2 separate regions of the Homo sapiens genome follow, and region 2 is reported to be linked to region 1. The links are microRNA targets in miRTarBase. Many come from high-throughput screens and were not tested one by one. Region 1 holds a microRNA gene; the other region holds the end of a gene's coding sequence. Distances are between the middles of the regions.

What was found. The annotated mature microRNA hsa-miR-1199-5p reads CCUGAGCCCGGGCCGCGCAG and lies in region 1 at 1,714-1,733, shown strand. An mRNA with a match to its seed (bases 2 to 7 or 8) in the 3' UTR can be bound and repressed. Matches are read on the target gene's strand: a 7mer-m8 pairs with bases 2 to 8, a 7mer-A1 pairs with bases 2 to 7 and ends in A, and an 8mer does both.
Region 2: miRTarBase lists ZNF175 as a target of hsa-miR-1199-5p. Seed matches in the 3' UTR shown: 8mer at 720-727.

Annotation. Positions count from the first base shown.
Region 1 is chr19:14,071,668-14,075,815 of GRCh38, forward strand. It overlaps MIR1199 (microRNA 1199), which reads left to right and starts at 1,694; the gene lies at 1,694-1,812. It overlaps MISP3 (MISP family member 3), which reads left to right and starts at 1,119. Exons shown (of 3, transcript NM_001291291.2): 1 at 1,119-2,210; 2 at 2,723-2,796; 3 at 3,039-3,395. The coding sequence starts at 1,643. The coding sequence ends at 3,056. RefSeq lists silencers at 938-1,107, 1,678-2,087, 3,510-3,745 and an enhancer at 2,275-2,795.
Region 2 is chr19:51,588,172-51,592,171 of GRCh38, reverse strand. ZNF175 (zinc finger protein 175) reads right to left here. Exons shown (of 5, transcript NM_007147.4): 5 at 1-4,000. The coding sequence ends at 3,705. LINC01530 (long intergenic non-protein coding RNA 1530) reads left to right here. Exons shown (of 2, transcript NR_034159.1): 2 at 1-389. Among named protein-coding and RNA genes, the nearest start is that of LINC01530, 4.2 kb to the left of the region's middle.

The DNA.
Region 1 (4,148 bases):
TAATTTTTTTTTTGTATTTTTAGTAGAGACGGGGTTTGGCCATGCTGGCCAGGCTGGTTTCGAACTGCTGACCTCAGGTGATCCTCCCGCCTCGGCCTCTCAAAGTGCTGGCATCACGGGCATGAGCCTCCATGCCCGGCCGGTAACTGTATTTTTCCTTCTGGGCACCCCAGAATGGTGGGGTTGGGGGCAGGTTCTGGGAAGAGTCTGCTTCCATTAGGGGGAAAGTGGAAAACGTCCCTAGGGGAGGGTGGCCCGCGCAAGGGCATCGATCCTGCCCTTGAACCGCATGATCCGGCCCCAGCTGCTCTTTCCCCCTACCCTGGACGCCTCCTGTTTCCTGTCTGGGCCTCCCCAGGCGCCCGGGCCCAAGGTGACCGCCTTTCAACTGCAACCGCTAAGCTGCGCCCACGGCGCACTGTGTCCGTCTCTCCCTCCTCCCTCAATCCGGGAGTGCCCTTGGCAGCGGACACCTCCCGGATTTTTCCGGGAGGAGAGGGGAAGCCGCTTCTCGGCTTGGCGTGGGGGCAGTGGTGCGCGGCTGGGAACCTCGCTGAGCCCAAGCATTGGTAGGGAGACCCCAGCGGCCAGTAAGGCGGCTCCTGGCGCCCCCTCGGGCCGGAGCTGTGCGCTGCAAGGCTGGATCGGAGGGAGGGCCCAGGGGCCTGAGGAGTCGCTGCCTGCCGGCTGGCACGACCAAGCGGGACTGCCCGGGTCCCGAAAATACGGCTTCGGGGGACACCTCACCAAGCGGCTAGTGGTTCAGAACCCCAGTCCGACGCGCTGCTGGGCCCAGTCTCCGGGACGATGACGGGGACATGGCTCTGAAAAAGTGCCAGGGTGCGCTCAGTAGAACCCAGCACCCAGAATGGCCCCCCAGAGAGCGGGGCCGGGTCTAGGGAAGCCCTCTTCCAAGAAGTCCCGTGCCCTGAGGTGACTGGGCGCGCTAGTTGATGAAACTGAGTGCCCCACCGAGGCGCCCCTGTCCCGAGGGCGGGGCCAGGGCGGGGCGGGAGTCCTCCTGGCAGGTGCCGGGGGCGGTGCCCGGCCCTGCCCCCGGGGGCCGTTCCTGGAGGCCAGAGGCGGGTCAGAGAAGCCGCCGGTGCGGGCGACGCCTTGGAACCCACGGCCGCCACTGCCGCCACAGGTGCCTCACAGTGCCCTCTGTCCTCGCTCTGGGAATCAAAACCCCGGTTGGGAACTGAGGCTTCCGAACTGCTTCCAACCCTGGACACGAAGGCCCCCACCGGCCGGAGAACGAAACCCTGGGGTCGTCTGAAGAGGAGGGCCAGGAGTCCCCAGGGCCAGACAGCGAAGCCCCAGAGCTGCTGCGGAGCTGAACACCGAGGTCCCCAAGCCCTCCGCAAAGGACGTGGAGATCCTGGAGCAAGAGAGCGAAGTCCTCGAGCCATCAGTCGAGCAGGACGCAGAGAGCCCCGGGCTGTCCACAGCTGCGGGCTTTGAGAGTCCTGAGCCAGGCAGAGACGACCCTGGGCCGTCCGAAGCGCAAAGGGCGGAGGTCCAGGGGCAGCATCCCCCTCCAGGCCCTAAGACCTCCTCCTCCAGGTCAGGCTCGGAAGCCCCCCACCTGCGTTTTCCGCCGTGCCCCGAGGCTCCCCAGCGTCCCCCGGAGGAGCGGTTCATGGAGACGCCCATCGAGCGCGAAATCCGCCGCAGCTGCGAACGCGAGGAGAGCCTGCGCCGGAGCCGGGGCCTGAGCCCGGGCCGCGCAGGCCGTGAACTCGTCGAGCTGCGCGTGCGGCCGGTGCTCAACCTGCCGGGTCCTGGCCCCGCGCTCCCGCGCGCCCTGGAGCGGGCGCGGGCGGGCGCGCAGATGCAGCGGGACATCGAGCGGGAGGCCCACCGGCAGGCGGCGCTGGCGCGCCCCGCGGTCCCCGAGCCGCGCGCCCGGTCGCCGCCGCAGCCGCTGGGCGAACTCAAGCGCTTCTTCGAGGCCGCGGCGGGGAGCGGCTCCTCGGCGGGGGCGGGGGACGGCGCGGGCCCGCAGAGGCTGCCAGAGCCTGGGGGACGGCCGCGCTCGGCCGTGCAGGGCGGGTGCCGGGTGCTGGGCAGCGCCCCGCCGCCTTTCACTCCGTCACTGCTGGAGCAGGAGGTGCGCGCCGTGCGCGAGCGCGAGCAGGAACTGCAGCGCCAGCGGCGCAGCGTCTATGGCACCGCGGAGTTCAAGGAGCCTACGCCGAGCCTCACCGGTAAGCCGCGGGCGTAGCAACGCCGGGACCCCCAGGGTTCCAGCCGCCCCCACCGATTGCCCAACTTCAGTGGCCCCTCCTGTGGCCCTCCGATTCTCGGGGTCTCTCCCTCCAAGCTCCCAGACCCCCTCTCAATTTTGTCTCTTGCCTACCCCTTCTGGAGCTCCATTACTCGCTGTGATCCACCCCTCCACCGGGAGTGATGGACTCTCTGATCCACACCACCCAGGCTGCGCGGGGGTGGGGGCATTCCAGATGTCTTCCTTTTTGTCGGGTTCCAGGGAACCCTGACTGGGTTCTGGCACTCCTGGGTCCTCCCTCTGAATTTTCGGGCTCCTGCTTCTCCATTCTGGGTTCACCTCCCTCCTCCCTCGGGTTCCTGGGTGCCTGGAGTTGAATGGAGGCTTTCATGGGGAGGCGGAGGGTGAACGCCTGTGTGTGTTTAAGGGGTGCGGCCGGCCTTTCATCCTGGCTGCCGCCAGCTGGTGAGCTGAGCGCCCCTTCCCCCGCAGCGAGCAGGGGCGACGGAAAGTTGGTGGTGATCTGGCCCCCCCGCAGAAAGGTCTCGGAGAACGGCCTGGAGCAGGTGGGAGCCCCCTTACCCGTGTGCCTCTAGCGCTTGTCGGTCCCCCCACCCCTCCGGTGCCAGGACGCTTGGTGGGGAAAAGTGCATCCTCCCTGGAGGGCCACTCTGGTCAGAACTCAGTCTGGGACGCATCCCCGGGGTGAAGAGGAGACGGTGGTCTTGAGGCCCAAACCGCCACCCCGAGCCTGGATGCAGTGCGCAGGTCCCTGAGGCCGGCCTTCCTTCTGGTCCTCTGTCCCCAGGAGGAGCGCAAACCTTGAGGTTTGAAAAGGCTGGGACCCCCGGCCGGAAGTAACGTACGCGTCAGAGGAACAGGGCGGGGGGCGTCTAGCATTAGGCCTGGAGAAGGGTCGGCTCTCTGCATTGGGGAAGATGAAATCGACTTGCCTTTGTGAAATTGACCAGCCCCCTCTATAAAACTTACAGTCCCCCATTGGGAAACTGACCACCACCCACAACTCCGCCAGTGAAACTGCCCAGCCCTTCTCTGCCTAATTGCAAACTGAACTACCCTCTCCCTTGACTGTTAAGAGGGCCGGAGTTACCGCCTCGATTGCCCCACTCCCCCCACCCCCAATAAAGCCTCTTCTTTCAGGGCACTGCAGCCTGTTTTTTTCTGGGTCCTCTTCGTCTGGGGTGGGGCGGGAGCACGGCGGGCCGAGGGAGGCCCGAGAAAACCCCAAGAGGTGCGGGCCGGAATGCGGGAATGCGCCCTTACCGCCCTGCTCTGGGGCTGCCCGCCTCCCCCGGCACGGCCAGACACGGCCTGGCCCAGGTCCTACCGCCCCCTGGCGGCCCGGGCGCAAAATGTGGCGCGCTTACCGAGTTCACACCCTCTCGTTTCCAGGCTTCCTCGTCAACATTTATTGGTGCCAACGATGTGCCCTGCGCTGGGCACTGGCTAGACAGTGGTGATAAGAGGCTGTTCCTACCCTGGGAACGTAAACAATAGCTACTAAAAAAAAGAGGTGGTGAGGGTTCAGGCTTCTCAACATTATTAGTTCCTAATGATCACCGTTCTTCTTGACCTCATGGGTCCTCACTATGAGACGTGCTCATTCGTGGTGTTGGGTCAAGAGTTTCTGCTTTCCAAAAGCATCCGTGGCCGGGCGCGGTGGCTCACGCCTGTAATCCCAGCACTTTGGGAGGCCGACGTGGGTGGATCAGTTGAGGCCAGGAATTGGAGACGAGCCTGGCCAACACGGTGAAACCCCGTCTCTACTAAAAATACAAAATATTAGCCGGGCGTGGTGGTGCATGTCTGTAATCCAGCTACTCAGGAGGCTGAGGCATGAGAATCACTTGAACCCAGGAGGCGGAGGTTGCAGTGAGCCAAGAACGGGCCACTGCAC
Region 2 (4,000 bases), 38 Mb from region 1:
AAAGGATGGATCAAGTACTGGTTTTGGGGGTGGGGGCAGGGGACTCTGGGCAGTATGTTTTCTGATCACATCACATGACAGTAGGACATTCTTCATTTCACCATGGCTTTCACTGCCCAACAATAAAAAGGTCATGGGCACTTTGGGAGGCCGAGGGGGGGGGATCACGAGGTCAGGAGATCGAGACCATCCTGGCCAACACGGTGAAACCCCGTCTCTACTAAAAATACAAAAAATTAGCCAGGCATGGTGGTGGGCGCCTGTAGTCCCAGCTACTCGGGAGGCTGAGGCAGGAGAATGGCGTGAACCCGGGAGGCGGAGCTTGCAGTGAGCTGAGATCGTGCCACTGCACTCCAGAGCCTGGGCGACAGAGCGAGACTCCATCTCACAAGAAAAAAAAAAAAAAGGTCATGAGGAGGTAAAGTAGTACAATGGTTGAGAGTTAAAACACTGGCATCAGATAGCTTGGTTCAAATCCAGGCTTTTCTTGTTCCTAGATTTTCGGTCTTGAGTTTACGTCAAATTCTCTAAGCCTGTTTCCTCATCTCTAAAATGGGGTTTATGAGGTTAGATTATTTCCTACAATGGCTGTGAGGAATAAACGAGTTAGTTCATACAAGCTGCCTAGAATAGTAGCTTCTCCCTCTGGAAACTCAAAACTCTTGACCTCTCATCTCATGATGAGGCCATTGGACTAACATTTATTCATCTCTTAGTTCTCTGAGCCAACAGATCTTTTCACAGATCTGTGAGCATGCCCTCATGTGACTGAAAACTTTAGATAGCTCCCTGGGACCCATCAATTCCAAAGCTAATCACCCAACCAAACTCCAGATTCCTCCGTCTATTATCCCACAGGCATTGAGTACAGACTGGCTTGTCCCAGCGCTTGGTACTGAGAGGAAAGAAAAAATAGTATGAGACAGAGGCTGGGAGGGAGGTGAGCACTCTAGACAGAGGGGGTTGCGAGGTAGGGAGGAAACTAAGTTGTTAAAGCCAACAGGCCCCGGAAGTGGCACGAGGTCAGAGGTGTGGGATGGCCAGGGAACGAGCAGCTTTCTGGAAGTGGGGAGGAAGGGCTTGCCCTGAGGGGGACAGTTAGGGAGGCCCACGTGAGGAGTGAACATGTGGCTGGAGATGAGGACCCAGAGTGATCCCCCCAGGTGATGCTTAGGAACAGGGAAAGCCCAGATCTGAGAAGGGAGGCACATCCTGAGGGGTCTTTGGAACCAGTGTGTCTACACTGTGGGCTCAAGTTTTTAACACACTTGTCCTAGGGCCCTGCCACCTTCCTCCCTGAAACTGGTCAGGGTGCCACTCCCAGGACCCAGGTGCACACTATTTCCACCCCTCACCACCATGGAGAGGCCTCTGCAGCCTTTCCACCCCACACCAGTCATCTACGGCCGGCCAGCCCTTGTACCTGGACTCCCCAGGTGAGACTCTTCCACCTTTCTCAGGAGGTGGGACATGGTCACTGATACTACGCCCCTGGACAGGGAGAGGCCAGTGAGACACAGAACAGATTTGCTCTCCAGGGCCCAGCACAGGCTCCTGCATGTGCAGTCACCTTGTTTTAGACACAGCCTGAGGTCTGTGCTGGTTCCTGACCAGCTGTGTGGGCCCCTATCAACCTTGAAGGGGTATGGAGACTAAAGCCATGGGTGCCCATCTCTAACACCCTTCTGGAAAAGACTTCCAGCTGACAGAAATCTCCCACCACAGTCCCACACCCAGCACAAGGGAACCAGGCAGGCTCAGGGATACGAGGCCCGCTAAAATTCATCAGCACTTGGTCTGTCCATGCAGTTCCAAGGGTTTAACACACACACACTTCTCACACCAAATGCATGGGGGTAGGGTACTATCATCATCTCCCTTTTGTAGATGAGAAAACCAGAATAGATGAGACCAAATAACTTGCTCAGCAGATGCAGAGGGTAGAGAGTGGAGCCAGGAATCAAATGCAGGAACCTGGCTCCTGGGCCTGTGCACTTAAAAGATTATGCTGGTCTGCTTCTCGGAAGTATTGATAACAGTTCCCTCTCCGTTTTTTAGCAAAAAATGTGTGTGGGGAGGAAATAAGTAATCAAAACTGTGGGAATGGCTAAATAAATTATGGCAGGTCAACCTCATAGAATACACGTGTGTACAATCCATCATGGATTGTAGAATGAAAAAAATACCATCCACACACGTAAGAGATCTGAGTTTTATAAATCAATGAAAGAGTACTTACACAGGTATATGATGATGAACATAGTAATATGTGTGTATGTGTGTGTGTTTGTGTGTGTATCATGTGCTGGCAAACATTTTCTGTAAAGAGCCAGAGAGTAGATATTTTCAGTTTCCAGCTTGGGGGCTATTTGATCTCCGCCAAAACTACTCAATTCTGCCAGTGCAGCACAAAAGAAGCCCAGACAATACATGTCCAAATGAACATGGCTGTGTTCCAATAAAACTTTATTTTAAAAAAACAGTTGGGAGGCCATATTTGGCCAATGGCCACAGTTTGTTGACTCCTGGTGTAAAAATATGAACGAGACTAATGGTTGGCACTAATTATGGAGAGGCTCACTATAGATGGTGGAGATGGAAAGGGGGGGCAAGCTGAGCTAATCCTAAAAGAAGAGAAAATCTGTAATATAAAGATCAGTAAACATTATAGAATCTCATTTATGCATTTACCAAAAATGCACATTCATGTGTATGTATAATAAAGGAGTTAATCATTGTTGATACAACCTCATTATATAAATATTCAATAGGGAATAATTTTTATAAAAACAATTAGATTAGATTCTCTTAAAAAATAACTCATCTGCTTACATCTCCTGCTATGCAGTGAATTCTGCAGCAAACCCCACTGCACTGAGGGCATACATACATACATACATACGCATACATACACATATGCTGACCAGACCATATACATATGTCTGCATATGCATATATATACATACATAGATACAGAAATATACGTACATACAGGTTGGGTATTCCTAATCTGAAAACCCAAAATCTGAAACTTTTTGAACTCTAACATGACGCTCAAAGGAAATGCTAATTGGAGCATTTAATCTTGGATTTTCAGATTAGGGATGCTCAACCAATAAATATAATGCAAATATTCCAAAATCTGTAAGTATCTGAAATCCAAAATGCTTCTGATCCCAGGCATTTTGGAGAAGGGATACTCAACCTGTATATAATAATATGCTTATATATTATATATATGCTTATATACATAAGGCGCACACACACACATAAAATATTGTCCTATCATGACTGTGTTGGCACTTTAAAAATATTGATATCCCACAATAAACAGGGTTATCATTGATATAATTTCCCACATATTTTACTATAAATAATCGAGTAACAACCTGTCTTGTACCATTCTTTACAGAAAGGCTTTTCTCAATGCGTTAGTCAGGGTTTCTTCCCGGGGAGAAAATTTATAATCCTTAATGAGGCCAGTACTCAGAAGGACATTTCTGCTTACTCTTTTCTCTGTAATTGCCCTCACTAAAATAAAGCATGACTTTTTTATCATGTGTTCACACATGCAGTGCATCCCTAGAGTTTTTCTGAAGCATGAATTCAATAACATATAATTAGACCTGATTCTGAGAAGATTTTCTCTTCTTCAAGAAACTCGGAGTATATTTCATTTATGAATATGCTGATGCACTAGGAATTCATTGCTTGGTAAAGCCTTTCACAGAATAACTGCATTTGTAAGATTTGTCTCTGGTATGAGTTGTTTGGTGTTTATTGAAGTTTGACCTGTTGTTGAAGGCCTTTCCACATTCAGAACACACATAAGGTCTTTCTCCCGTGTGAATTCGCTGATGCACCTTGAGTTGTGGTTTCTTACTGAACGATTTCCCACAGTCAAGGCATTCATAGGGTTTCTCTCCCATGTGAGTTCTTTGATGGGTAATCAACTCTGATTTCTGGACAAAAGCCTTCCCACATTTGTAACAGACAAAAG